Linked DNA regions of Homo sapiens. The protein of the gene in region 4 interacts with the protein of the main gene of each other region in a pairwise test. Each region holds a gene or a part of one and is shown on either strand. Other genes may lie near its edges.

Region 1 (8,584 bases), on a different chromosome or scaffold from region 4:
TGTTTCTTACCTACTATTTTCCACAGCCTTCATAGCATATTCAACTTGAAAAACTCTTCCGTCAGGAGAGAATGTAGAGGCTGACAGGTCATACTTAAGGAGAAAAGGGCAACAGTAAGCTTGTATCTTTGGCAGTAATGACCATACAGTTTCTTCCCCTCTAAATGGCTGAAACATCAGGAACCTGTTATATCCCAACAAAGACCTTGCTTTCAAGAGAGGAAAGGGAAACTTGTCAGAGCAGCAACAGTAGCTAAGATAAAGCTATATACCTTCGATTTCAGCTATTGAAGAGTAATGGATACAGGTCCCAGGTGAAGTCAGAACACTTTTCACCCAGACTACAAAACTCATTTTTGAAAAAGATTAATATGGGGCAGTAGAACCAGCACTGGAGTTCGAACATTTAAATTTGTAACGATAACTCTGCCATTAACAAACTAAAAGACTTCAAACAAATCATTCGGCATTCACCAAGCAGTTAATGAGTATCTATTATGTTACTATACGGAATACAAAGGTATACTCATTCATTAAGTCCTTCAGTTTCACATCAGACATGAATCTAGGTGCTAGAGGTACAGCAGTAAATCAGAAAAGGCACTAAGATGAAAATAAAAGAGTAAAGCAATGAACTACTACAGACTACATCATCAGGGAAGGCCTTCTGGGCAGTTATATTTAGGCTGAGTCAAACCTAAATGACAAGGAGCTAGCCATTTAAGATATGAAGGAAAAGTCTTCTTGACATTTGGCACAAAGATCTTAGGGTAGAAATAAGGCTAGCACAGTCAAGAAACAGAAATAAGGTCACTGTGTCCCAAGCACTGTAAGCAGCAGAAAGAAGAGTAAACTGTGTTAGTGAGGTAGCTGAGGGCCAGATTATGTTGTGTCTTCCAGGATGGAAAAAGGACTCTGTATTTTATTCTAAATGCAATGAGAAATTTAAGCAGGGGGAGTGGTATCATCTATATTTTTAAAAACATCATTCTGGCTTTATGCGGAAAATAAGCTGTAGAGAGAACAACAGAAGCAAAGATAAGGTGTTCCAAAGATAGCGGTAGTAGCTTAGACGAGAGAAGAGGTAGAAGGGAATATTTTTTGAGAGTAGAGTAAAATATAAAAATAATAAAAATAAACTTGCTAGGCCAGGCGTGATGGCTCATGCCTGTAATCCCAGCACTTTGGGAGGGTGAGGCGGGCTGATCACAAGGTCAAGAGATGGAGACCATCCTGGCCAACATGGTGAAACCTCATCTCTACGAAAAATACAAAAATTAGCTGGGCGTGGTGGTGCGCACCTGTAGTCCCAGCTCTTCGGGAGGCTGAGACAGGAGAATTGCTTGAACCTGGGAGGCACAGGTTGCAGTGAGCCAAGATCGTGCCACTGCACTCCAGCCTGGCAACAGAGCAAGACTCCGTCTCAAACAAAATAAAAATAAAAAAATAAACTTGCTAAAGCGTTGGTTCTGGGAGTAAAGTAAAAAAAGGAATTAAAGATGAATAACAGATTTTTTCATATGACCATTCACTGAGCTGAAGACTGTAGTAGATGCAAAATGGCAAGGTGAGGAGAAAACCCAGAGCTCTACTTTCACATGCAGTACGAAATGACTATTAAACGATCAAGTGAACAGACATGTCAAGCAGACAAACAAATATTCGTATCTGGAGTTCTTGGGAGAAATGAAGACAGAAGAAAAGCCTTCAGCAGTGGTACTTTCTGAGTCTGTTTCCTGATCTGTTAAACCCAGATCATTAACCCTACCATTGTTACTAAAATATCCCACATGGTTACATTATCAAGTATTCTTTAAAAGGTTTGTAGAATGAAATACTATTAATTCAAGGTAATATTAATATAATTGCAAAGTCAGTTTGCTACAAGATTTAATATTGAGCATTTACTTATCCAAGAAAAGTATGGCAGAACTTTAGCATTCATAACTGAATGGATTAAACCATTCCAGACATAAGTTGCCTATTATCAAATTTAGAACACCGGTACTTGAACTTAAGGCTGAGCATGAGAATCTTGTTAAGAAGTAGAAATTGAGGAACTGAGAAACTCATTATTCAATAACTCTAGTGCAAATAACCAATAAATCTTTTAGAAACTGTATTTTCTATATAGAGAAGTACATAAAAGGAGTAAACTGACTGCACATATGCAATACGTTTAACAAAGGAAAGCCAAACAAGTTAACAAGTCCCACTGCAAAATCCTCAACAGTCTATGAAAAGTCTGAAGCTGTTAAGTTCCTAAGTAACCATTTAAACGTTTACGGAATAAATGCCTACAAGCGCTGTTAGGTAATTTGTATAGGAAAAACGAGAAAGGAAAAACTGAAGGATTCATCAGATTGTTTTTCAGACCATTTTTATTAGTTCTGTTCCGACAGGATTTCCAGTGACTCTTAAACTGAGCGGTCAATGATCTGCACACTTAAAGACAGAGAAGGCCTGTGAATCAGCAGCACCCTAGGAACTGCAAACGCAGTCCACAAAAAGCACGATCTCCAGACCCCGGAATCCCAAATCTCACTGCCTCGGTGGTTCTCAAGAGAACACACTATTTCAAGCCCCACGAGTTTCCACTTTCGGTTTCCCTAAGTGGCTGAAGAAAGTGACTCAGCAATCCAAAGCGGCTCCAAACCTCACTGCGGCGACGCCAAGCCGGCTACACCTGCGCTGAAAAGCTTCAGGAGTCACGGTCACCTGAGACGCAGGCCTAGCATATAGGGGATAAAGACGACCGGTCTCCAAACAGCTGCAAATGGCCCACCCAGCCGAAGGCGGTCTCAGAGCACCCCGGGTCCGCGAACCCCATGTGGTCTGTCCGAGTTCCCTTCAACCCCAATCCTTAGGTTAAACTATTACACCGACAGACAGCGAACTCACCCCAGTGCCGATTGAGCTCATCGTGCTAAACCCAAAGGGACGCGTAGGGATTCCAGGCCCGGAGCGCTTCCCCTATACCACAGGATGCCGCAAACTAGTAACAGGCCCGCTCATTGGCTGAACTGCCAACCAATAACCTTTTTCTCTGTGGCTCGTTCCGCGGCTCCGGCCCCCAGGACGAGGAGTATTGTGGGAAAAAAGCGGGCCGCGAGAGGCTGGCGGCGCGCATGTGCAGAAGCAATGGAGGCGGGGTTGGGGAAAGCAAAGGCTCCTCCTTCGGTTCGCGTACTTTGAGCCGCTTGGCGTCGTGGTATCTGAGAAGCTGCTCTATTCCTTTCCTTGGAATTATTATTTATCTTTTATATTATTATTCTCTCCTCACTTTATTCTTTCTTTAAGCCAAAGGGAGAGATGCTGGTATACTCTCACAAAAAGTAGAAAAAGCAGTAGGCGCGAAGTAACCTGTCTTCCTCCGCGTCCCGACCCTGACCCAGAATCTTGATGGCATCCACTTCACCTCCTTGTGCTCAGGCTCTCGTGAAGTTTCACTTAAAGGGTATCGTCTTTGAATTCAGCTTAGAATTTTACGGAAGTATTAGTGCTCTTTCTATGAGTATAACGCTTTTTGGTAAGAGTTAAAGATAAGTCTGATTAAAGATATTTTTTGAGCGCTAGTATATTCCACGTGTTCAAGAAAAAGCCGTGAACAGAGCATACCCCCATTTCTAATGTAATTTCCATTCAGTGGGAATAAATAGGTAACAATAAATAAGCAAAATAGTAAGAAGAAAGAGTGCTTTAATAGACAATGGAGGTACTAACTTTAGGCAGTGTGCTCAGGGAATGACTTTCTGAGTGAGTGATATTTAAACTAAAATAGGGTAACAAAAGACAGTGGTTTAGGGAACAGTAAAAAACTTGGCTTGCGCTGGGAACTGTCACGTCAGAGTGACCTCTCATAATGATTAAGTGGGGAAGAATGACAGGAAGAGAACAAGTGCACAGGAGACCAAATCTTGAAGTGGTTTGAATTTTAATCCGATTGTAAATAGGGCATCAGCATTTTTTTTACTCCTAAATATTAATACGTCAGTGTGTATTTTCCCCCAACACAGGAACATTATTTCACAGAGACACAGTATTATTGTGAAAATCAGAAAATTACCAATACTATGATCTATCAACTTTATGCATTTTTTTTTTTTTTTTGGTAAATGGCCCAATAATGTCCTTCATAGCAAAAGAAAATCCAAGATCACACCTTGCATTCAGTTGTCATGTTTCCAATCTGCTTTAGTCTGGAAAATAGTTGCTTAGTATTTCTTCAGTTTTCATGGCATGAACACTTTTGAAGAATACAAACCATTTATTTTGTAGAATATTCCTTAATTTAGGTTTGATTTTTTTGTTATTTGATTCAAGTGATGCATTTATGGCAGGAATACTACAGAAATGACCTTGTATTCATTCATGTCAGAGCATTACATTAGAAGGGACATGATGTTAGTTGTTTTATTGCTGGTAATGTTAACTTTGATCACTTGCTGAAGATTTATCCCTGATAATGTTTCATTTTTCCCTTTGTAATTAGTATCTTGTGAGGAAATACTTTGAGAATATGTACACATCCTGTTTACGCCTCAACATTTCACTCATTAATTCTAATATCTGATGATTCTTATTTGAATTGATTATTACAATGGTTGCCAAATGGTGATTTTCTAATTCCATCATTCTTTTCACATTTATTATTGGTTTTCTACTGTGAGGTTATCAGGAGTTTTTAAAGCAAGAGAATTATATGATTTGATTTAAATCATTAAATGACCTCTTGTTTCTGTGTGAAGAATGATAGCTAAGGGAAAGAAGAGAGGCAGGGATACTAGTTGGAAAGTTATTGCACTTTTGTGAGCTAGCAGTAATGGAGAGTGATTTGGACTAAAGTGGTGGCAGTGGAGGTGGAAATATGTAGATGGATTTCAGATGTGTAGGGAGCTATGGTTTGAATGTCCCCTTCAAAACACGTGTTGAAATTTAATTGCCAATGTAATGGTATTGCGATGTGGGGCCTTTAAGAGGTGATTAGGTCATGAGGGCACTATGGATGAATGACATTTTCAGAATGGGTTAGTTATCTTGGAAGTGGGTTCCTAATAAAGGGGTGAGTTTCACTGGATTTCAGCTTTCTCTGTCTCACATATTCGCTTGCTCTTCTGATCCTCTGTCATGGGATAACACAGCACAATGCCCTTGCCAGATGTCAGTGCCATGCTCTTGGACTTCTAAAACCATGAGCCAAATAAACTTTTCTTGTTTATGAATTACCTAGTCTGTGGTATTCTGTTATAGCAGCAGAATATGGGCTAAGACATAGGGCTTGCAGAATTGGGTATAGAAAGTAAGGGGGAAAAAGGAATTTCAGTTACTTTTGCTTTTTCCTGCTAATGAAGCATTACAATTGATGTTTTTATTCTTGAACAAACCGATAGATAAAAGGACTTGAATGACTTGGAAGACTAGCCACTTAATTTACCTAACCCTCGTTAAAACATTCTAGTTGTAAGTGGTTTTTTTTTTTTTTTTTTGAGACTGAATCTTGCTCTGTCACCCAGGCTGGAGTGCAGTGGCATGATCTCTGCTCACTGCAACCTCTGACCCCCGGGGTTCAAGCGATTCTTCTGCCTCAACTGCCCGCGTAGCTGGGATTACAGGTGTGCACCACCATGCCAGGCTAGTTTTTGTATTTTTAGTAGAGACCGAGTTTCACCATGTTGGCCAGGCTGATCTCACACTCCTGACCTCAGGTGATTCACCCTCCTTGGCCTTCCAAAGTGCTGGGATTACAGGCGTGAGCCACTGCACCTGGCCTCTAGTTGCAGTTCTTTCCTGGGGAGTTCGGATTTAGACCAAGATAGTCCAAGAAAGTGTTGAAGAAAGCTAAAGGTTAATAGTTGCAGAAGGTTTGGCCTTGGAGGTAAACCGTAAGTACTCAAAACTTGTTTAGGTATCAGTTAATCTTTTAATTAACATCATTACTTGTGTGTGATAAACACTATTTGAGTGCCTAGTGCACTCAATATTTATTAATAATTAAGAATTTGGGGGTTCTTTCGGCCGGGCGCGGTGGCTCACGCCTATAATCCCAGCACTTTGGGAGGCCAAGGCAGGCGGATCACCTGATGTCAGGAGTTTGAGACCAGCCTGACCAACATGGTGAAACCCTGTCTCTACTAAAAATACAAAAATTAGCTGGGCGTGGTGTTGCATGCCTGTAGTCCCAGCTACTCCGGAGGCTGAGGCTGAGGCTGAGGCAGGAGAATTGCTTGAACCCGGGAGGCAGAGGTTGCCGTGAGCTGAGATCACGCCACTGCACTCCAGCCCAGCGAGACTCCCTCTCAAAAGAAAAAAGAAAAAAAGGCCAGGCGTGGTGGCCCATGTCTGTAATCCCAGTCCTTTGGGAGTCCTAGGCGGGTGGATCATCTGAGGTCAGGAGTTCAAGACCAGCCTGGCCAACATGGTGAATCCCGTCTCTACAAAAATTAGCCAGACATGATGGCGGGTGCCTGTAGTCCCAGCTACTTGGGAGGCTGAGGCAGGAGAATTGCTTGAACCCGGGAGGCGGAGGTTGTAGTGAGCCTCATGCCACTGCACTCCAGCCTGGGCGACAGAGCAAGACAACTCTAAATGTATACTATTTTATGACATATGTTATTTTTAAATTGAATACCTCAGGAAATGTGATGCCCAATGTTTCTAGCTTCCAAATACTGTGCTTTGGGGATACTATCCTAAGAATTCTTTGTTATTTTCAGGTTTACAAATTGGTCTTTAACTTGCACTGCTAAGTAGTAGTATAAACACCACACCCCTCTCCATTATCACAGAAATTAGAAGAATTTCTTTTTCTTTTTTTTTTTTTTTTTTTGATATGGAGTCTCGCACTGTCGCCCAGGCTGTAGTACAATGGCGTGATATTGGCTCACTGCAACCTCCGCCTCCCGGGTTCAAGCGACTCTTCTGCCTCAGCCTCCCGAGTAGCTGGGATTACAGGTGCCGGCCACCATGATCGGCTAAGTTTTTGTATTTTTAGTAGAGACGGTAGTTGGGGACGGGGGGGTGGGGGTGGGGGGGGGTCACTATTTTGGCCAGGCTGGTCTCGAACTCCTGACCTCGTGATCCACCTGCCTTGGCCTCCCAAAGTGTTGGGATTACAGGCATCCCGCGCCCGGACAGAATTTCTTATCTAGAAAGGTTCACCATCATTTCAGAGTATATGTATTTCCATATGACATTATTCCAGTATCTCCTATGGTAATTTGATTAAAATCGGGTTTCTGACCCTTTGCCTGTTAGAGTTCACATTCTTTACCATTAGATTCAGAGACTATAATTCTTTCCTCCCAGCTCCTGTCACTTGAGGAGAATAATAGCACCCTCCAAACGTCCTATCTCTCATTGTCAGACAATTACGCTAAAGAGACCTTATATTAATTGACTCGAAGCCCCCCTTTTCTGAATTTAACTCTCCTTCATCAGACCATGCTAAAGAAAATAGCTAAGCCCCGCGGTTGTTCAGGGAAACTAACCCCTCAGAGATTGGACTTTGTTTCTAAATGCGGAGCCCAAACATGTAGGAATCCGGAATGCCATTTGATGGAAGTTGGATGGCCTTGATATGTGTTTATGTAAACAAAACATATTGGTTGGTAAATATTTTTAAACACTTTGTTAAAAAGATTCAATGACTCTGTAATGATAAAGATTCGCATAAGTTTTCAATGATCTTTGGATACATATACAAACATTCTTAAATCTAAGTACAATTAAATATTTAGAACGCTCTGAAAAATAATTCTGAAGTGCCGATCTAATAGTACGTTATAAATTTTTTTAGAAAAGAAACTACGCGGAGAATATAAAACCATGTAGTTAAACAGTCCTCAAGAAGTAAAAAAGCAGGCTAACGTAACAGGCGCCCGGCTAGCTCAGTCGGTAGAGCATGGGACTCTTAATCCCAGGGTCGTGGGTTCGAGCCCCACGTTGGGCGCGGGTTGTAACTTTTTTCCTGAAACTTAAACGCTTTCACTAAAGCACTTAAACTACAGAGTTCTCAAGCAGAATTAATTTAAACACTTTCAATATTAACCAGATTCTCCAGTAAAAAGTTAACCTTTTGTAAACGAAACAGGTCACAAACTGTGTTTGCGCAATTGAAATCACACGTCCTCCCCGTGTTCTCCTTAAAACACAGAGGAAACCAAATGCCCACTGTTAAAGACTAGTTTTTTGTGTTACTGTGCATACTTGGATAGTTAGTGGTAGAGGGCAGTTTTAATTGTTATCTTAACAAACCTATGAGCCCCACATTTTGGCTGCTCTTCTAAAATTTAAGAGACCGGATGTAAAAACATTCAGAGGCACCTGAGGACTCCGAAGAAAAAGAACCAATTTATCCTTCTCTGTTTCTCTTCCTCTCTCTCTCTCTCTGTCCTTTTTCCTATTCTCAATATGGAGTCTATCCCTGAAGAAATATATAGTGAAAAATAGTTCTTTTTGTAGTGAGATTTATACCACCAGTGCATACATCAAGTTTTCTTCCATTCTTCTTGGGGATGGATACTAGGAAATTAAGATTCTAGTAAAGGCTCTTTAAAGACGTACAAAACAACTGAGATATGAAAAT
Region 2 (4,553 bases), on a different chromosome or scaffold from region 4:
TGGTGGGGAAGCCTCACTGTGGTCTCAAAGTCTGGAGCTCCTTTGCGTGTTTATCTGGCCTCTGCGATGCACATCTGGGAGGATCAGTGTTTGCATGGAGAGCAGGAAATAAGAGCAGGACCCGAGGATGAGGGCAGAGACCGGAGAGGACTGTGAATTTATATAGCCAAGGGCTCTTGTGGTCCAGCCCAGGCCAAAACTGAGACTAGGGTAACTGCAGGTTTTTCCAGGGTGCTTCTTGAATCTTTTTTACCAGAGAAAAGTAGTGGAAGGAGGACAAAGGGCGGCTTCACACAGCGCTGACTCCCCCTCACACAGACTTGGGGACCGATCAGCGTCTGGGGCACCAAGAGGCCGCCTGGGGGCTGGATTCAGGAGGTAAGGTGTTGAGCAGACACGATGGGGAGGTGGAGCTGGGGCGCAGGCACCAACACCTGAGAGGCATTTCCCCCTTCTTCCCTGGGTGTGTGCGGTGGGGGCTCCAGAAACGCCCGACCCCCGGGAAAGGGGTGAGTGAGGTGGGCCCCATCTTTCCAGCCCCCGGGGAGTTCCTGCGTCCGCGAGGACAGGGAGGCCTCTAGCGGCTGGCGTGGGAAGCAAGCAAAGGCTGGCTGGGGACGGCGGGAGGGCATTTCCTGCCGGCGCCTGGGGCCGCGCGGTTTCGCAAAGGAAGTGCCTCCCGGACGCGGGGCGGGGCGGGAAGTGGGGCGGGGGCGCGGCCAATGGCTGCTCAGAGGCCGCAGAGGGGCGGGGGGGGCCGAGCCCCGGCGCCGGCCCCACCCAGGCCGCCCGGCAGAGCCAGGCGCCGGAGCCCGCCGCACCCAGGCCAACAAGTTCTGCCGCTGGAGCCTCCACCCAGAGCCTCGCCCCGCTCCCCGCCTCTGCCTTCGGAGCCGCACAAGCCCCGCCCCTCTGCTCCAGGGCAGAGGCCACGCCCCCTCCCCCGCCGCATTCCAGGACTGCCCCTACCCAGGCCTTCGAATTTTGCTTTCCAGCTACTAGTATCCTGTCGTCTGTGTCCAGGCACTTAATTAGTCCTGCCAATAGGGCACATCTCCATTTTGCAGACCACATACCCGAGGCGGGAAGACGTAGACGAGCACAGCCTGGAGGCTCAAATTTGTGCTCTGACGCTGCCCTTCCCACCTGAAGTGTCGAGGGCCGGGCAGCCCCTCCCTCCACCAACAGCCCTCTAGGTGTGCTGAAGCGGGGGGGGGGGGGCCCACGGCAGCCGCAGGTGCAAGGCACACACCCCACTTGCTGAAGTCCCCCGCAATAACCACAGAAGCAGGATAGGGGTCTGGCTTTCTCTTTAGTTCTCATCACACTAGGGCTCTCAGTCACAGAGAAGGCACTTAAATGGGAAGGCCACCTGATGCAGGCCAACCATATTCACCCCCCGCCCACCCGCTCTGGGGGAGGGGAGCACAACGACATCACCACTTGACATCCCCCTTGGCACTGGTATGTGGGTCCCCTTAACCGTTAGACCCTGGGGAGAGCCCAAGGCCTTGACCTCCGGAATCGCCATGTTAGGAGGAGGGGCTTCAGAAACAGTTGGAAGGCAGGATATCCTGGGAGCTGCCCCCAGCCAGCAGGGGATCAGGCAGGGGGCTGTAGGAGATGGGTTGGCACAGGGGAAGGGGACAGCTTGGTCGGGCTTCCTGGAGATCCCCAAACCCCACAGAAGGTCCCACCTCCTACAGATCCCCCAAAGGCACCGGTGAAGGATGGGCAAGGAGGCACTGATGAGCTGGCGTAGAGACCCCCCACACACACTTAGCTGGTGGGCCTAGCATATGCTGGGCACAGAAGGTGCTCAAGAAATGTTTTTTTGAATGAATGAACGGAGCAAAGGGGTGTGAGGGACAGAGGACAGGGCCTGGGCCCCTTGGCCCAGCTTGTTCCATTCAGAAAATAGCAGTTTAAAAAATGTAAAAATCCTTTCCCTCCCTCCCCCCAACTTCTGGGCCCAGGAAAGGGGCAAGGGAGGGGTGTCTCTACCCTGACCCTTCCCTCTCTCCTTCCCCTAAAAATCTATATACACATGTACATATTTATATGGCACCACAAGGGGGGTCCTGCCTATGCCCCCACGCTCAGAGCTGGGGGAGCCAAGCCCCGGGGCTGGTTAAGGCAGAAGTCTGAGGTCATTGCTTGGATGATGCAGGGAGCAGCCCTCAGCTGTCGGCCCTGGAGAAGCTGCACTGTGGGGCCTGAAGGACAGACTCCTGCTGCCTTCCCCAGTGGTAACAGACCTCCCCTCCCTCCAAGGCAGAGGCAAAGGTTGGTAGGGGCCCTCTCAGTCCCAAGGGAGGAGGTGGGGCAGGGGGAGGGGCTGGTTCTCCCCTCCCAGCCTAGAGCTGTGCCCCTGGGAAAGCTGGGCGGGGAAGAGGGGGCTCTATGCAAGGCACTTGATGTCCACCGTTCCCAGACTGGGGGTCCAAGGCAGGAACCCTGCCCCCAGGAAGCAGAACCGGAAGGGGCCAAGGGGCCCAATTTGGCAGCAGAGAAACATGGCAGCATGGACAGAGACAGAAAAAGGGAGCAGCAGGCAGGGCCCCCCAGGTCCCCTGAGAATAGGGGAGGAGGTTTGAAGGCACTGACACGGGGCCTGGAGCTCACGGTCCTCAGTGCAGCCTGCTGCCCCTACACCGCCTGGTGGGGCTGGTGGGGGAGACGCCCGCTTCCCCATGGCACTGAGTGTGGCGGCGGCCCATGGGTTTTCCTAACAAAGGCCTGGGCAGTCTTCCTGGGAGGAGGTGTGGGTATCATTGGTCAGGGGCAGGTCCTGGCCCCATCACCCTCACTAGCTCCCTGGCCGTGGCTGCCTGAGCACTGAGTACACGTCGTCCACACGGCTGAGTTGCTCGAAGAAGGGGAGGAGGTCGTGGAGCTCTGTGTCACTCATGTTGTCAAACCACGAGGCCACCGGTACCTGGGGAAGTGGGTGTAGGAAGATGAGGGGGGCAGGTGGTCCTGGGTGCAGAATTTCCAGGCCAGCCCTATGTAGCCACTACTCAGATCATGCAGTTTCTGAAAACCCCTCACCCACAGTGTTCAAACTTTTTTGACAGCAATCCCCAGGAAAACACATTTATAACGTAACAATGCAAAAGCTTCACAATTCCTAACCTTATCTGTGCGAAGCACTCGGATACTTTTTTTTTTTTTTGAGGCAGGGTCTTGCTCTGTTGCCCAGGCTAGAGTGCAGTGGCACAATCTTGGCTCACCACAGCCTCTGCCTCCAGGGCTCAAGTGATACTCCTACCTCAGCCTTCTGCATAGCCGGGACTCCAGGCATGCGCCACCACGCCTGGCTAGTTTTTGTATTTTTTGTAGACATAAGGTTTCACTATGTTGCCGAGGCTGGTCTTGAACTACTGGGCTCAGCTACCTGCCCACCTCAGCTTCCCAAAGTGCTGGGATTACAGGCATGAGCCACTGCACCCGACCGGATATTTTCTATTCTATTTCATTTTGTTAAAATTCCCAATCAGAACCCACTAAATTAATTCTGTGGGCCATCAGTAGGTCACAACTGGCAATTCGAAAAATTGAAACTTTCCAAACTCCGTTGCCCTGTGGGGGCCCCTGTGCATGGCAGATGCTCTGCTTTGTGCGAGGGGAAAAGACCATATGGCTACAGGGCAGGTGGATGAGGGGAGTGGGCGGCAGGCACAGGCAATGAATGCAGGAAGGACTGGGAGGGCACCCACCCCCCAACTGGGGATCCAAGAGGCCAAGGTGGCCTGAATGGACTGACCCCTTCCTGGGTCTCAGCTCCTGTCCCAGTCCCAGTCCAGCCCGCACTCACAGCATTGTCTGGATGGAAGACATAGGAGGCAGGTGAATTGTCCAGGATGAGCACCCGCCGCAGGTCTCGACCCAACCGGCTCAGGTCCTTCACGTAGTTCCCCCGGTGGAAGACGCAGGACTCTCGAAACAGCCGGGCCCGGAAGGCCCCCCATTTGTCCAGCAGGTCAGCTACTGGGTCTGCGTACTGGGAGCAGGAGGTGGGTCATCCTGGGGCCCGCAGGTTCATTGGGCTGCATGCGGGAGGTAGGTAGGAGGGCAGGGTTGCCCCGGGACCCCTGTGGGGCTCACCTTGGCGAGGCTAGCAGTGAACAGCACACATTCAAAGAGCTCGCCCATTCGCTGCAGGAACTCATCCACGTGAGGACGCTTCAACACGTAGACCTGGGGGGCGGGCCAGTGAGGGGGCTGCGGGCCAGTGGGGCAGTGTGGGGGTGGCCGAGGGCTGGCAGGGCATGGGCCAGGGAGGCAGAGGCGCACAGGAAGGAGACTGGGCCCGCAGGCTCCGCTTGGCCAGCTACCCTGACCACTGCTGGGGAAACTGTACCCACCCCCCGCCAGAAAACGATCAAAACTTCCACTCCACTGGCCAGTCCTACCTCACGAGGTCCCTAATTCCCAATCCCTTCCCCTGCCTCAACCTCAGCCTAGTGCAGGAATCCAGGGGCAGCCCCCTCACCCCAAGGCTGCAGGGCACCGGTCCCCGAGCCAAGTAATGGAGAACAGGCTGGACAGCA
Region 3 (7,979 bases), on a different chromosome or scaffold from region 4:
GAGTAGTTCCACCTCAGGTAGAATTTAAGAAAATGGGATTTTCCTGGTCAAACTGTGTATGAAGACAAAGTCAATGGTCATTTGTAATGTCTCCTGGGCAACCACTTTCCATGGGCTCCTCTTTGAACTTCCCAGGGAAGAATGAGAGCCAAATGGTCTCTCCCTAAAACAGATTTTAGCTAATAAACACAACAAAGTATGCGAAAAGCACTTCAGTTTTTCTGCATCTTCTCCAAGACTAAAAATTTGTACATTGTGTGACAGGTCCACCTCATTTTTCTTAATGATGTTTTTATTATTCTTTCACTCAATTAAAGCAGAAATGGATATTGCATCTTCTGACTGTATAATTGTTATTGTAATCTGTTTTCGATCACTGCTTGGGAAATGGGTCCAAAACAACATAAACTCTCCACTGCCTCAGAAGACAAGTCATTTTCTTTTACTACGACACTTAAAGAGACATTTATCATGCTGCTCTGTTAGCATCTTTGGATTATGACAAAAGAAAGTTCTTGTTCTGTTAACCCCCAAAAAATAATATTTCAAAAATGCTATTGCTATTTCAAGTGTTTTGATATGAATGCATCGTCAGTAAGCTATTAAATATATCAATTTTGCCTTTCCTTATATGTAATAATAATTGAAACAAATGCAATAAAAGTACTCAATTTTAATATAGGACATAATTGGGAAATCTAAAAATACAGTTATTTTTACTTTATGCCTTTGGTCCTTTGGTCCTTTCCCAGGAGTCTTGGGCATGGCATCCAATCAAATTTGCTCTCTTTGCAAAGAAAATATTTTCTTGTGTTAAAAAAAAAATCAATCACAATCAGTTATGAAAGAACTGATACACTTGCTTTCCAGCCAAATGCAAAAACAAGTAAAAAGTATTTTTTAAAGAAAGAAAAAGATATATGTGGTTAACGTGATGAAATTCACGCTGTTTCTACGACAAACCCCTGCAAATCACCTCTGTCAGATCTTAGCACTTTGGAAAACATTTGCTCTAACTAGAGTCTCTTATTTTATATATTATATACATAAATATCTGTGTAAGTCTTCAGTCAAATAAACAAAAGAAAGACACTGAGCTGCTGTGCACATTTCAGTAACTGTGCAACCATCAGTGGGCACCAGTTACCCTGGTTTGAAATGGATCCCTTTTGATAAATAGTAGCTTGCAGTGCCTCCCCTTAATTTTTTGATCTTTTTTGTTATTTTACAGTTTAATAACCAACTGTACTACGATAGAACTCCATTCCAATGATACGGCTACTAGGTAAGAGCAGAACTGAATCTGCCCACACACTATTAGTGAGTAACAGTACCAGGAGCAACTAAAATTGAAATATATTTCCCCAGAAGGTTTTCCTGTCCTATGTGTCATAATCATTAATAAAGAATATGCTTACTATAAAACTGACATAGTTTGCTGATAACTTTATTGCAAGTTTCAAATTCTTAAAATTTCTATTCATGCTTTTATCTGCATTTTAGGCATTTGTCAAACTAATAACCATAACATCCACTTGTTTAAGTTAAAGGACATCAATTAAAAAGGGGAAAAAAAATGCATGCCATAAACTCTATTGTCATAATTATATATCTAAAGCACACTTGTTCCATATTATGTCTTTTTATCTAGTTTTTTAAAAATCTGAAATAAGTAAAACTTTTTAATTGAGCAGCAAAGATACAGAAGTTGTAGAATGCAATTTCTGATGTAGCCTTTCAGTGCCACTTAATTATACTGATTTTACCACAATTCTTAAATCACTTGCTACTAAAAAGCAAAATAATTCTGTTAATTGAAACAAATATATATAGCTAGAGTTCCATAATTTTGAAAACTCCACCATGGAACATTTTTACAAAAACACTGTAGCATGTTATGCTTACAGGGCTTGTTTCTACATAAAAGAAGAAAAATAATGTTTGGTTAATTGCTAACAATAAAGAGCAACGGAAAATAGCATACTATAATGACTACAACTGTGCTTTTTTCAAACTCTGTAAGTCCTCAACTGGTTTTTGTTTTAGTCATACCTCAGTTCCACTCAGGGCATCTACTTTGACTTTGAAATATTTATCACATTACATTTAAGTAGTAGGATGATGAATCTTTTGTATATAAAAATCCATTTTCACCACAGACATTTTCAAAACCTCTATTGCATTTTAAAATAACAGGAATTCACAGCTCTCCTTACTGGCACCCTAAATTAATGCTGGAGAGCAGTGTTGATTGGAAGTGAAAAAAGACCATACAATCAAAGTCAGTAGAGGCAAATCATTCATTTAAAAATTGCTACAAAGAAAAGAATAGAAACTAAAAGGCAAACTCTTTTCTTCATTTTTTTGAGTTAAGCATAAAGGTCTCCTACTCGAAACCATTTTAGGTTATTTCTCTGTTTTTTCCAAAAAATAATGAGTTAAAATGTATGGGTTAGATCCAACATTTCACTGCTGTTCTTATTCTTGGGGAGTGGGGGAGACGGGGAACTTGCTGCCAAAGCTTCTGAAAAGAGACTTTGGGCTGCTAATTTTCCGTTCACAAAATCTAAATTCCCCTTATGCATTCTCACACAACTCATGAAATAATATGAAACAGTATTATATCACTGCAAATTGAGACATTTTTATCAAAATAAAGAGTGATGATGCCAACATTTCATTTGTCATTTCCCACTTGTCACTTTTCACTGACAAACTGTTACACATACAACTTTTGTCAAATGCTCCATCTTTAAATATGTTCCAAAATGCCATTGTATCTCAGTATTCATGTAAGGAAGATAGTAAAAATTACTATGTTACCATATATTAGTTATATAGGTTTTTTAAAAGCCTACTGATTAAACAATATAAAGAATTCTTTATTAATTTACATGCTATATAGGATAAAGTTTGGCTTTCTGAAATAAAACAATGTACATATTTTACACACCTAATGTGGGTTCTTAGTCATAAGAAACATTTTAATGGTGAGAAATTTTATTCCAACAGAAACCTAAAAAGCTTTAAAAGATAAGTATAACCCAAGAAAATAATACTATTTGGAATTCATCTAGCCCTGTAAATTTAACATGTCTTTTTAAATATATACACATATGCTGATTCTATAATAAATACTTTTTAAAAAGAAAGAAAAATAGGGGTTTTAAATTATAACCATCAAACTTCACTGCTTACTACTTTGTCAGATATACCAAATAATTACTGTAGTCTTTCCTGGAATAAAACTGATTTCCGTATACTTAAAATGACTCAAATTCATATTCTTAGCTATCTAATAAATGATGATTAGTCTGTTTTCCCTTCTCTACAGAGATAGATTGGTTAAAACAAAATTCAAGAAAGAAAAGAAGAATTCAAACAGGATATCTCATATGTACAGACTTTGCTGGTTACAACCCTCTGGGAAAGGATGATATTGCTTATTTTCTGCAGGGGTTAAAAAACAGATGCCTTAAGGGACATCTATGTAGTTCCAACACACACACACACACACACACACACACACACACACACACACTGCACTACAGATGATCTTGAGTATACAATGGTCAGTGGGTTTCTTCTGATGGAACATAAGGCTTCCAAAATTACTTGAAACATCAAATTATGCTCAGGACTTTGAGGGGCGGATACCCTATGTTCTGTTTAATGTGTATGTTCCACTGCATATATTTTTTTAACCAAGTATATCTTTATTTTAATAACAGGCCAAGAACTAAAAACACTTTAGAGAAGAGTTATTTTTCTACCTCAGCAAAACTACAGAGGACAGGCTAGATTGTTGGATGACCCCAAAGCCTAAGTTCATTCTATTTAAAAGATCTTAAAACCTTAAAAAAAAAAAAAAAAAGTGAGGAGGGAGAAATACAATCTTTTCTCTTTTGAAGTAATGTGTACTTCCTACAAATATTATGATATTCATCCTTGGGAATGGAGTTTTCTCCATTTTGCCCATGTTAACAATATATTTCTAAGTATTTTATAATCTCAATATATACCTATCTATACTTTCATATCTGCATTCCTTTCAAAAAGTTAAATGTCTCTCTACTGTTGCTGATATGGTGACTACACCTGACCCGAACTGCATTTCTTTTCATCTAAAAGGAAGTGTTCCACATGTAGACAATTAAACTAACTGTTGTTGTAGACAATGTTCAGCTTTAAATGAGGCCCTGACTAACAATCTTGATCACATTTGCTTCCCTATTTGAATACATCAGTGTGTACTGCATAATGATTTTTTTCCCCCTTGCAACAAGACAGTTATGTTCTTGAAAGGGCTGCCTGGTAGCACGAATAGGTCTACTTCAGGTAGACTAGTTATAAGATAACTTTAACAGACAGTATGCCAACAAAATTAAATTGTTATTTATAAAACATAAATTATTTTTCAGAAATAAGCAAGTTTTTTTAATAAAAAAAGCAAATCTCTCTAAAAGATATTTTCAATGTTTAAATATTTTTCCCTAAAATGTAGAACATTTAACACCAAAAAATCATAAAAATTCATAGGAAAATGAAAAATATCAAAAAGATTTCTGATGTTTAATGTCTCCTATCAGCAAATACACCATCTGGTATATTCAAGCGCTGTTCATTCAGTTTAAATAAAGCTGTCTGAAAGTTCTTCTTTAAGCCAAACATTAAAAAATGAAAATGCTTGTGTTAACAATGAATGAAGCACAATAATTTATTGCTATTAAAGCACAACTGGCCAGCACCTTTCAGCAGTCCAGGAGAAAAGCAGAATGCCTTGCTTCCTCTGGAAACTTGATTGGCATCACTTTCATTTTATGCTGTAAGTTGCATGGCTGAAGCATTCCATACAGCAGAACATTTTAGGTACTTATGCTAATAGTGGTAAAAAGGATCATCTGATTCTTATTTTCATCATCCTTAATAATCCCTTCTTTTCCTAAATCTTCAAATAGATCTGTAAGTTTTAATCAACAATTTCACAAATATAAATTTCCCCACCATTAATCATCCTTTTTCAAAATCCTTATGGAGTGAATTACTAGCTGAGAGGGGACGCCAATTCTAGTAAGTGAATGTTACCCAGCAGGGATATAAAGCTGTCAACACCATGGTGCTCTTGCTAGCTCTAAACTCTCTCCTAGCCTTCATATGTTTTTTAAAGAGATATTAGCCTTTTTTTTTTCCTAAGGACCGTCTGTAAAAGCTGACTGACATACACATCTGAGCACTTACATTTTATTACATACATGCTTTAAAACACACTGCTCAGATAAGAGTAAAAACATCCCAGAAAGTGTTGGAAAGACAAAGCAAAACATCTAGTTTCTAACAGTCTTCTAAAGCTAACCACATAGTAAACAATCCACTTTTAAGTCCCCTGTTAAAACACAACCTTAAAGACAGTGACAGTGTATCTACCCTCTCTTCTATTTAAATTGAGACACTAAAGTAATGCCCCTTCTTTTATGAATACTTAGTTCTCATCAAAAAACACAGTAAATTCCCTCTACCTAAATAAGTAGAGTAACAGCAGAATTTATTACTGCAACCAATGCATTCAGAAGTATATTTAAACTATATTTACCTCACTGCTTATCAAAAACAGTAAGATAAATTGCTATTTGATTTGACAACCAATTAACTTGATCTCCCTTATTTTTAAAAGAACAGCTTTTAAGAAAGAGGAACACTAAAGATTAACAAATATGTACTCCCAAATTTTTGGCTCCACTTTTAAGACAAATTTTATTGTATCCATCATTACACCATTGAAAAGACTGCAATATATCTGAAAACGGTAATAAATGATACAGAGCTATAAATACTTGTGTAGTTATCTATGCTTATTATATTGCTTTATAAAGAAAATTTAAACAAAAGAACATAGAATGGTAGAAATATAATCTACTTTATATTTACTCTATGTTCAAAAAAATCCTTTAATTATAAAAAAACTAACTAGAAATGTATTTTAAACATTTTTTAAAATTTAGAATGTGCATTTTTCAAAAGGCCTGGCTTTGCTCCAAACTGTATACATGGTTAACAGTTACAAAGAAACTATTAACATCTTAACATACATTTGGAAATTATATAAACTTAAACTCATAATTTTGTTAACATTCAATTAGAAACCTTTGTACTATCAAAATCTTATCTTCTAAGTTGTTATATTCTAAAGTTGTCTAAATTAATCTCTTTACACACTATTATGCTGTCTTTTTTAAAAAAATTTAAATTCCACTAAACAATTTTAACCAGTTTACTATCGTGTATTATAAACGATATGTATTGAGACAAAATAATGTCATCTTTATTTTCAATTTGGGAAGCAGCTAATAAGACCTCTGCTATTACTAAATTAAGTTAATCAAGAGAAAGTGTCTAAGGCAGCTGGTTGAAACAAATCTATTATTCTTCACCAAGATAATAATTTTAGTTTATATTAAACACATAAGGGCTCAAATGTGAACTATAGTCTCAGAAAATTTGAAAACCAACCACTATTTAACACTAAAGTTATCCCTGGTCAACAGAACAAGGCACTTTCTTTCATAGTTCAACATGATATAGAGGAGGGGAAAAAACTTGTTTTAGGGAAGCACGTTGTTAACAATTACATTCTAAAATGTTTACAGCTCCTTTCAATTTAGTGAATTTTATTAGATCTTCAGAAAGATACCAAAATTTTAAGTCCAAGCCTTTTCTGTCCACAAAGGCCACTTTGGAACACACTGTCTCCAAGGAGTTTCAGAACTTTTTCAAACATTTTCAGCACTTAGCATATCTCATAATTGGTACCATCATACTCTATGAATTTTTATTTCTTATATGCATATACTAACTGATTATGCCAAAAGTCTGACATTATTTGCTCCAGTATCAGGACAACAAATTAATAAACCTCTCTTTTAAAAAGTGGGTCACAGAACTGTTTTCTTTTGCTTCAATAAAGTATATTTTCAAGTCCCAAAAAGGGGAGATAAACAAGCCAGAATCCATCACCAAACTTTTTAACTCACAACATTGAAAGGATGAATACTTCTCAAGTGAGACGATTAATATGAAAGACTGAGACAAACCATCCTAAGTATTTACCATGAAGAAATAGAAATAGCAAAATAAGTAAAAAGAAAAAAATACGATTTTATAAAACGTATGTGTTCAACTCTTTAAGGAGGAATGAACATTTTTAGATGTAAGTAACTATTTTGAAATACACACAATAGACACTTACAACAAGGGGGTGGGAGCTTATCATTAAGGTTTGCCAAGGTTTTATATCATTTAAGACAAGTTAATATATTGAATATTAAATGGGCTACTGTTGAAATTATTAGAGAAAAAACGTTAGAGGCAAAAAAAATTAAACTAGTGATTTATGCCAAACACACAGAAAACCTGCATGCCATGTGGAATTGTGGATTTTACATGTAAAAGACAACTAAGCAAATGGCATACAAACTCCAAAATATTTCAATGTTTAAATTTCTCCCATATCTTTATTTTGTATGATTGCTTTTCCTGACCACTTTAAAAGAAAGTAGTTGCTTAAGTAGTAAAAACTACAAAAGATTTTCTTTAAATAAAATTATTAATAAATTCTTTGGAGGGGAAACTACATCTAGTTGATAAGGCTACTTTGCTATTTTTATCTGTTCTCCTATAATTCATAATAAAGTTACGAATGCATATGACTAAACTTTATAGACAACAGCAGCATTTAAGCTTCTAAGGGCCTGATGGATTCATGGTGATTCTTTATTTCCCACATTTCACGTGGCAGGAAATATTCCCAGTTGTCATTCATCTGTCTTGAAGCACTGTCCTCACTACAAAGTAACATCAACTCTCCTTGTTCCTGTACTCGCCTGAGCATTAATGACTATTTTATTCCCTAAAAGCGAACGCACGTGAACTTCATCCCTACAACAGACACTCCGAGGCAAGGCAAAAGAGTTAAATCACTAAAA
Region 4 (7,979 bases):
CTGTAGCTAAGGCCACATCCTGGCTGGACTCCCCCGTCCCTTCCCTCATTCTCCTGGGAGCTGCACACAATCTCCAGGTGAGGCTCTGCCTCTTCGGAACCCAGCCTAAGACAGGGTGGAAGGTAGCCGGCGGCTGTGCCCGCCCGCAACAGCCCCTACTGAATGTCCAACACTCCTGGGGAGGGACATCAAGTGAGAGGGGCACCCGCAGGCTGGGGAGTGGAGAAGCTTCGGGGAGGGGCGGGACGGTGGTGGCCTGGCAAAGATAGGGAGGTGCGAGAGAGCGGGGCGAGGTCGGGGGACCAGCCCGTCGTGGCAGGGACACCGCTGCACAGGGAGGGTTGAGGAGAGGCTGCGGCAGGAGGGTGGGGCAGGGCAGAGCTCAGGACAGGAGCAGGGACAGTGGATGCCCACAGAGGCTCATGAGCAGGGAGTAGCAGGGAGGGGGCTTTCCCTCTCCAGGGAGTGTGCTAGGGAGAAAACACTTCTCCCTGTGGACCCCACATGTCTTGGTCTTTCAGGGCAGGGACCACATCCTAAAACTTCAGACCCTCCTCACCTCATCTCCCACCCCCAGCTTCATCCAGTGCAGCAGGACACCCAGGCCAGGGACTTAAAGTGCTAGAGGTGACATTGTTGAGCACGGGAACATCTTTTGTGGGGCCTGCTGTTGAGCCATGGTTGGGCCTGGAAAGCGGTGATGGAGATAAGTGGCCACTGAACAAGGCTCAGTGGGCACAAATCCACAGGGTAGGGGCTGCAGTGGACTCAGAGCCAGGATCCCAGGTCTCGGTGTGTGGCCCTGAACACACCCCTTTCCTCTGCCAAGGCTCAGCCTCCCTTTTGGTAAATGGGTGCTCAGCACACCGCTGGGAGGACTCACGCTCGGATGCCTTGTGGAGTTCATCAAGGACAGTATAGTCTGCTGCCAGCAAAGGGACCATTTGTCCCCTTTAGACCTGCTCCCCTGCGAGGAGCCTCTAGCAGGCCTGAGATGGTTCCTCAAGCTGTGTCACTGGAAACGTGTTTCCAAACATGTTCTCTTGTTCCCCTCAATCCTCTTAAGAGTCAACAGAGGGACAGAGGAAGAGGAATCCCTGTCCTCAATCCCCAGCTTGGTGAGAACCCCTGTCCTGGTCTGGGTCACTCGGCAGGGGAGGGTGGGAGCTGGGATTCCTAGAGGCCCCTTGGCACTCACGGCCGACTTAAGGCTGGTGCACCAGACGCACCGCTGAACCTTTTCCAAAGCTTCGGCCAGCACCTGAGTCTGGGCGTCAGGAGCCCCGCACTCTAACTGGAACTCTAGCATCACTCCTGGATTAGGTGACATTGAATGACAGAGGGGGGCGATGTCATCCCATGACATTTCATACATAAGGCTGCATCTCAGCCGACTGGAGAGTGGCCCTCCTGATGGCTCTGAAGTCAGCTGCCCTGTGCAACAAGGCCCTGTGGCAGGGGACTGCGGGTGTCCTCTAGAAGCTGAGGGTGTCCCCTTGCCAGCAGCCAGCAAGAAAATAGGGGCCTCAGTCCTTCAAACACAAGGAACTGAATGCTGCCAACAATGTGAGTTTTGAGGAGGACCCTGACTTCCAGAAAGGAACACAGTCTGCTGACAGCTTACTGCGACCTTGCAAGTCCCTGAGCAGAGAATCCAGTAAGTAAGTAGTGCTTAGACTCCAACATGGGGAACTGCGCTATTTTAAGCTACCAGGTTGATAGTAATTTGTTACACCGTAATAGCAAACCACTGCCCTTGGCTTGGCTGTGTGGCCCGAGTCAGTCTCTGCGCCTCTCTGAGCCTGTACCCTGCTCTGTAAATCAAGATGTAAGGCTGGGCGTGGTGGCTCACACCTATAATCCCAGCACTTTGGGAGGCCGAGGCAGGCAGATCACTTAAGGCCAGGAGTTCGAGTTCAGCCTGGCCAACGTGGTGAAACCCCATCTCTACTAAAAATACAAAATTAGCTGGGCGTGGTGGCACATGCCTGTAATCCCAGCTACTTGGGAAGCTGAGGCAGGAGAATTGCTAATGTCTGCCTGGGAGGCAGACATTGCAGTGAACTGAGATTGTGCCACTGCACTCCAGCCTGGGTGACAAAGACTCTGTCTCAAAAAATAAATAAATAAAATAAGTAAATCAAGGTGTAGTGCTATTCATACTCCCAGGCCCAGGGCCCAGTGTCCCAGCACCCAGGTGGCCCCAAAGGAGTCAAGTAACGCTTGCAAAGGCTGACTCACCCTGGCCCGGGAAGATGGCGAGATGTAGTAATGGCTTTTGGAGTCCCCGAGCCGGATTCGGTGGCGGCAGGTGCGGGTCAGCCCGCTCAGGGCACATGTGCTAGGGGAAAGCAAAATGGGTCACGGGGGCTGGCTGGGGCTTGCCCCTCTCCCTCACCCCTGCATACAGGGAAGATGCAGCAGCTGAGAGGATGCATGGGGAGGGGCAGGCCTCCCTTCCCCCACCCGGCTTCCAAAGGAACCCAGAGCCAGGCAGAGAAGGGAGCTGGCCCCAGCCATCCCTGGGACAGACCTCGAACTAAGCTGAGCTGTACCCCTAGAACCCTTGTTTTGCCCCTACTGGGCAAGAGAGCTTGGTTAATCTCATGCCAGGTGTACAAAGTCCCACCCTCTGCAGGCTCTGCATATGCCTCTCCCTCTACTTCTGGGGACTCAGACCAGGCACTCCTCCCCCAACTAGGCCAGAGTTGAGGTCTGGCTGCCTCCCGCTTCCCAACATCCAGCAGCTCCCCTGCTTCATCCATGCAGGCCTTCTGACCCCACTAACCCCCATGGTTCTCAGCCGCATGCCAACCAACCCCGTCTAAGAGCCTTCTCCCATGCCCTCTTCTCTCCTCCCCCCAGTCCTGCATGACGTCGCTCAGCATCTTCAGCCACCCACATGAAGGGTCTCCACAGGCCCTGAGCAACCCCCATCTGGGCCCCACTCCCCAAACCTGCTCTTCACTGGCCATCATCTGCTCGGCTCTCTCCTCCTCACCCTCTGCTTGGTCACCAAGTCCCCAGGCCAGGGCACAGCAGCAGTACTTTTGGCCTGCATCCCCTTGGCTCCTTCTGGCCAGCTCTCTGCCTCATCGCTCTCTTTCTTCTCCACATCAGAGCCAGGGCTCCTCCAAAAACCCACATCTAACCCATCATCTTTCTCTCTTGCTTTCCTAATTCCCAAGAAATGGGGAGAATCCCAAATAAATGAAGGTTTAAAAAGCTCCTTGGCTGCGGACTTATCAGAGCATTTGTTGCCTCCTGGTTCACTGGGACTCTCTGATGGACCAGAGAGCCTCTTTTCAGGTGGCAGCTATTGATGACTTTTTTTTTTTTTTGAGACAGGGTCTCACTCTGTCACCCAGACTGGAGTGCAGTGGTGCAATCTCAGCTCACCACAACCTCCGTCTCCCAGGCTCAAGCAATTCTCCTGACTCAGCCTCCCGAGCAGCTGAGATTACAGGCGTGTGCCACCACACCCGGCTAACTTTTATATCTTTAGTAGAGATGGGGTTTTCTCCATGTTGGCCAGGTTGGTCTCAAACTCCTGACCTCAAGTGATCCACCCGCCTCAACCTCCCAGAGTGCTGGGATTACAGGTGTGAGCCACTGCACCCGGCCTATTGATGACTTTTGCCGCACTGGCTGGTGGGTTAAAGCCCAAACCTGTGAAGGCTCTTTATACTCTGGCCCCAACAGCCTCTGCAGCCTCCACCCCAATTCCCTGTCCCCCCACTGCTTAGCCAGATGCCCCAGTGGTGCTTCCGTTAATACTCCAGCTTCTCACACCTTTGCACATTCCGTTCCCTCTGCCTGAAATGCCCTTCCCTGCTTGGCAAACTTCTATTCATCCTTCAAAACCTGGCTCAAATGCTCCCTCTCCGTGATGAGCCTCCCACCAGGGCACCAGCCATCCCCAGCCAGGCTCTTGGCTGCCAAGGTGAAATCCTCCCCAATTTCTGCCCCTTGCTCCACCCTGGCTATTTTGTTCTGCTGCTCCCCTGCTCAATGCCAGGTGAGTAGCTGGAGGACAAATGCCAGGGCTACTGCGTCGTTATTTATTGGCAGGGGCACAGCCAGCAACTGATAATCATGGTTCAAGAAAAGAAGGGGAGGGCACAGAGCAGACCAGTCAGGAAGAGGCAGACCCTAGCTCCCGGCCTCTCTGGAAAGCCTGGGGGTCCACAGGAAACCTGCCAAACTGCCTCCTTGCCCTGTGGGGGCAGCAACTGTCCCTGTCCTGTCGGCGCTGCTGCATCCTGACCACCCCTCGGCACAGTAAACACACGGCTTGGCGGGGCTTTCCCACATGGGCAGGAAGGAGCTAAGACCCTCAGCTTACTTGGTGCTGCTACAGTCAACCTCGGCCACCTTCACTGTGGGCAGCGTCTGCGAAGCCACCGGCTCAATGGTGAGCGTGTTGTCCTCCACGGCGGCCCGTACCAGCACCGAGAGCTGTGGCAGACCAGGGAGGCAGGCAGGGTGGTAAGGGGCTGGGCCCTGGCGGAGGGGTGTGTCCCCCAGCTGGCCCCGCCCCTGCCATGCCTCACCTCCTGCATTGTGAAGTCCAGGCAGGGGCCCACGTCCTCTCGGTACACCCTTTCCAGGAAGGGGCAGGTCTTGTCCAGGGTGGGGGATTCCCTCCAGGCCTGGAACTCTGCAAACAGGATTGTGTCCACCTGTGGGGGAGGGCAAGCGAGGGTGGGGGCGGTCAGGGTACTGGGGCCAGCATAGAAGATGCAGGCTGAGCTGAAGGGGAGCGAGGGAGGACGTGGGGCAGGCCCAGCAAGCCAGCAGGTCGATCCCCAGCAGCCGTGCAGGGAAGCCAAGTCCAGCAGCAGCAGAGCTCCCTTCTGCCCTTTGCACCAAAGAATTTAGAACTAAAAGTTTTGTTTCCAGGCCGGTGTTAAATTTCTTGGCGCTACTGGATTTTAGAGTGGGGTGCAGGGCTTTGTCCTGAAGACCCTCAGTGCCTCCTTGAGGAGGAAAAGTCAAAGAGCAACTAGCAGGAGGCCACAGGTACCAGCAGGTACACAAGCACACACAAGCACGTGCACACAGGAGGGGACACACACAGGCTGCCCTGGGCCCACACCTCAGAGGTGACTGCTGGCCTGCTCCAGGCCACATGCAGAATGAGGGAGGCTGGGAGGGGGCAAAGTGGGAGGCCCCTCTTTGGAGCCATTTACCTGTCGGGAAAAGGAGGGAGAGGGAGTGGAGGCAGGGGCTGGGGGCTCCCCAGGTGGGAGCGGCCAGGCCGGCTCGTAGGTGAGGTGAACCGCCTTGCTGGGGACCACGCAGAGGAGCAGGGAGAGCAGCGGGGCCAGCCCGGGCTGGGCCGGATGGACAGACAGACAGACAGACAGACAGGTAGACAGGTGCACAGAGACAGAACAGGAGGAAGGGGAGAAGTTAATGTACATTCAGAAGCTCAGAGCTCAGGAGGTGGATGAGGGCCTGCTCGTCTTCCCTGGAGGCCCTGGAGACAGAGGTGGAAGCCAGGATGGAGTCGAGTGGGCTGGCGCCAGGGACCCAGGAAGCTGAAGGCACCACAGCCCTCTGAGGCACTACCTGGGTGCAGCCTTGAACTCAGCTCTTGATGTCCCTGTCTCTGGTTCCTCCAGCAGCCCCGGGAGGCCCCATTTATCAGGTGAGAAAGCTGAGGTGCTGACAGGTGGCCTCATTTGCCTACAGACCCATGACCATGAGTGTCAGCCCAGCCTGGGCCCAGCAACTGGTGTGGCCAGCTGAGGTGGGACGGAGACACCTCTCCAAAGGCCACGCTTGTCTCAGCCCCACAGTCAGAGGGTGCCAGAAACCCCTTGAGCACAGGGCTGTCACCAGGTGGTCCTGGGGCTCGAGGCTGTGGCCACACGGGGTCCAGGCAGCCTCTCCCCTGAGGCCCAGTGGCTGCTGCTTGGCCTCTTAAGGCCAAGGAAGTGTGTGTCTCAGTGGAGGCCCCAGATCCTCAGGGCCAAAGCCAGCCTCAGGTGCAGAGACCACTACCTACTGCTTGGAGTCAGTGGGGCAGGGAGGGGGCCTCAGGTCCCCAGATGGTATACCCTGGAGGCTGCAGGCCAAGTGCCTCAGATCACAGGAGGTTGGAGAGAAAGGACCTGCCCAGCCCTCACATCCCAGAGAGGCGCAGGACAGGCTCCAGGTCACACAGCATGGGGCAGGCTGGTCCTCACTGGGCTCGGACCCTGCCTACCGCAGGCACTGCCACCCTTCCCCGTGCCCAGAGCCCGCTTCCCACCCTCACCTCCTTGCCCTCTCTGTCTGGGGTGAGGGTGTGTCCCGCAGCGGGACACACGGCGGGGCAGAGGGTGCTGCTGGTGCTCTTGTGGCGAGAGTGGCCCTTTCGGGGCCCGGCCTTGGTGGGGCTCAGCAGCTGGGGGTGAAGCTCGCGGTTGGGAGAGGCTGGTGTGGACGTGATGACCAGCGTCTTCAAGGCTGTCACCTCTGCCTGCAGCATGTCGATCTGCATGGGATGGGATGGCTGTCAACCCTCACCCAGACTGGATGCCATCCTGGCTGCCACCGCCTATCAGCCTAACTCAGGACAATGCACCCCTGCAGTGACAGGCACTTAGTCCCACCCGACGCCCTCAGAACAGCCTTCGAGGCAGAGACCCAGACACTCGTTTTACACATAGGGAAACTGAGGCTCACAGAGGCGACATGGCCTGCCCAAGGTCACTCTGTGAGCAGGATTCTGTTAGGAACAAGTGTCTGGGAGCTGGCTGGGCCTCCCATGAGAGTTCTGGGACCGCCCCCAGGAGCCAGGAAAGGCCCAGGCCTCACATTTTGCAGATGGGCAACCAGGCTTGGAGAGAGGAAGCGACTTGCCCAGGCTCAGACAGCCATACTGAGTGAGGTTTCTGCTTTGTAAAGTGGGGCTGGGAGGAGAGGGAAGAAGGTACAATAATCACAGGGTCCTCCCAGCCCCAGCACTATCCCAGAAAAGGCTCTGCCATGCAGCAGAATCACTGATGGAGCCCCGGGACACTGGGCCCTGTGATCTCAGACCCCCACCCTTCCCTTCCCTCCCTGGGCCTAGGTTCACCCATTCCTGCTGGCCCCACCGGGCCAGGTGAGCGTCCACTCGGGCAGCAAAGCTCAGTGCTCGCTGAGCCGGGAGGCAGGGGGGGTGCCTGGGCTGGCCTGGGCAGGCGGGGATGGGCCTCACCTTGCCCCGAGCCTCCTTCAGCTGCTTTTCTGATGCCGCCTGCTTCATGTTGGCTTCTCGAACCATCTTGTGAGCTTCCTAGGAAGAAGGCAGTCCCTGCGTGAGTGGTGAGGAGCCAACGGACGCCCAGATGACCCATTCCCCAAGTTGTTCCCGCGCCCAGCCGGTGTACCTCAAACAGGCTGGCCGTCAGCTCTTCCAGCTCCTGTTCTAGCTGCTCCCGCACCTTGGACAGCCGCTCACATTCCTCGTCCTTTAGCTTCAGCTCCTGGAGGAAAAGAGGCAGGCACTTGAGCACCTCAGCATCCCCAGGCCTGGCACGGGAGGGACCAGGCCCACCGGACCAGGTTCCATCCCCTCGTCATTTTATGTGGGGCTCAGAGTTTATTTCCTCTGGTGCCTGACAGTTTGTGATGCTTTTTCCGTTTAGCCACAGCATGAAGCTGAAGCCCTGCCTGCCAGTTCATCAGAGCTCAGGGCACGTTTGCAGTCAAGACGGGTGACCATCGGTGCGCCCAGTACAGGCCTGGCCAGCAGCTGGCCTCGGTGAGGGCACATCCCTCTCCCTTGGGCACATCTCTGGGCACCTGATGAGAGCCCACAGCTCTCCCAACCTGACTTCTCCCCACCGAAGACCCCCCAGCCTACTGCAGGCACCCACCTTCTGCGCTCTGTGCAGCTCCTCCTTCAGGAACTCGGAGCCCTTCTCTCGGATCTCCATGGAAGAGCTGCGCAGGCGCAACACGTCCAGCTGGGCGGCTGCGGGGCCCTCCTGGCCTTGGGCCTC

Evidence for each region.
Region 1: the proteins of RAB3IL1 (region 4) and PSMA3 interact in binary tests that used the Homo sapiens proteins (3 or more experiments, as listed by UniProt).
Region 2: the proteins of RAB3IL1 (region 4) and CTDSP1 interact in binary tests that used the Homo sapiens proteins (3 or more experiments, as listed by UniProt).
Region 3: the proteins of RAB3IL1 (region 4) and SATB2 interact in binary tests that used the Homo sapiens proteins (3 or more experiments, as listed by UniProt).

The regions. Positions count from the first base shown.
Region 1 is NC_000014.9:58,239,259-58,247,842, reverse strand, and holds the start of PSMA3 (proteasome subunit alpha type-3), read right to left. Parts: upstream 3,001-8,584; 5' UTR 2,923-3,000; coding exon 2,902-2,922; intron 94-2,901; coding exon 11-93; intron 1-10. UniProt on the Homo sapiens protein: Component of the 20S core proteasome complex involved in the proteolytic degradation of most intracellular proteins. This complex plays numerous essential roles within the cell by associating with different regulatory particles.
Region 2 is NC_000002.12:218,402,682-218,407,234, reverse strand, and holds the end of CTDSP1 (carboxy-terminal domain RNA polymerase II polypeptide A small phosphatase 1), read right to left. Parts: exon of another isoform or gene 4,513-4,553; intron 4,225-4,512; coding exon of another isoform or gene 4,201-4,224; coding exon 4,108-4,200; intron 4,004-4,107; coding exon 3,818-4,003; coding exon of another isoform or gene 3,644-3,817; exon of another isoform or gene 3,081-3,643; intron 2,939-3,080; coding exon 2,810-2,938; 3' UTR 1,294-2,809; downstream 1-1,293. UniProt on the Homo sapiens protein: Preferentially catalyzes the dephosphorylation of 'Ser-5' within the tandem 7 residue repeats in the C-terminal domain (CTD) of the largest RNA polymerase II subunit POLR2A.
Region 3 is NC_000002.12:199,447,593-199,455,571, forward strand, and holds part of SATB2 (DNA-binding protein SATB2), read right to left. Parts: intron 1-7,979. UniProt on the Homo sapiens protein: Binds to DNA, at nuclear matrix- or scaffold-associated regions. Thought to recognize the sugar-phosphate structure of double-stranded DNA.
Region 4 is NC_000011.10:61,900,201-61,908,179, forward strand, and holds part of RAB3IL1 (guanine nucleotide exchange factor for Rab-3A), read right to left. Parts: coding exon 7,854-7,979; intron 7,461-7,853; coding exon 7,365-7,460; intron 7,271-7,364; coding exon 7,193-7,270; intron 6,903-7,192; coding exon of another isoform or gene 6,808-6,902; intron 6,485-6,807; coding exon 6,266-6,484; intron 4,683-6,265; coding exon 4,554-4,682; intron 4,459-4,553; coding exon 4,346-4,458; intron 2,342-4,345; coding exon 2,242-2,341; intron 1-2,241. UniProt on the Homo sapiens protein: Guanine nucleotide exchange factor (GEF) which may activate RAB3A, a GTPase that regulates synaptic vesicle exocytosis. Promotes the exchange of GDP to GTP, converting inactive GDP-bound Rab proteins into their active GTP-bound form.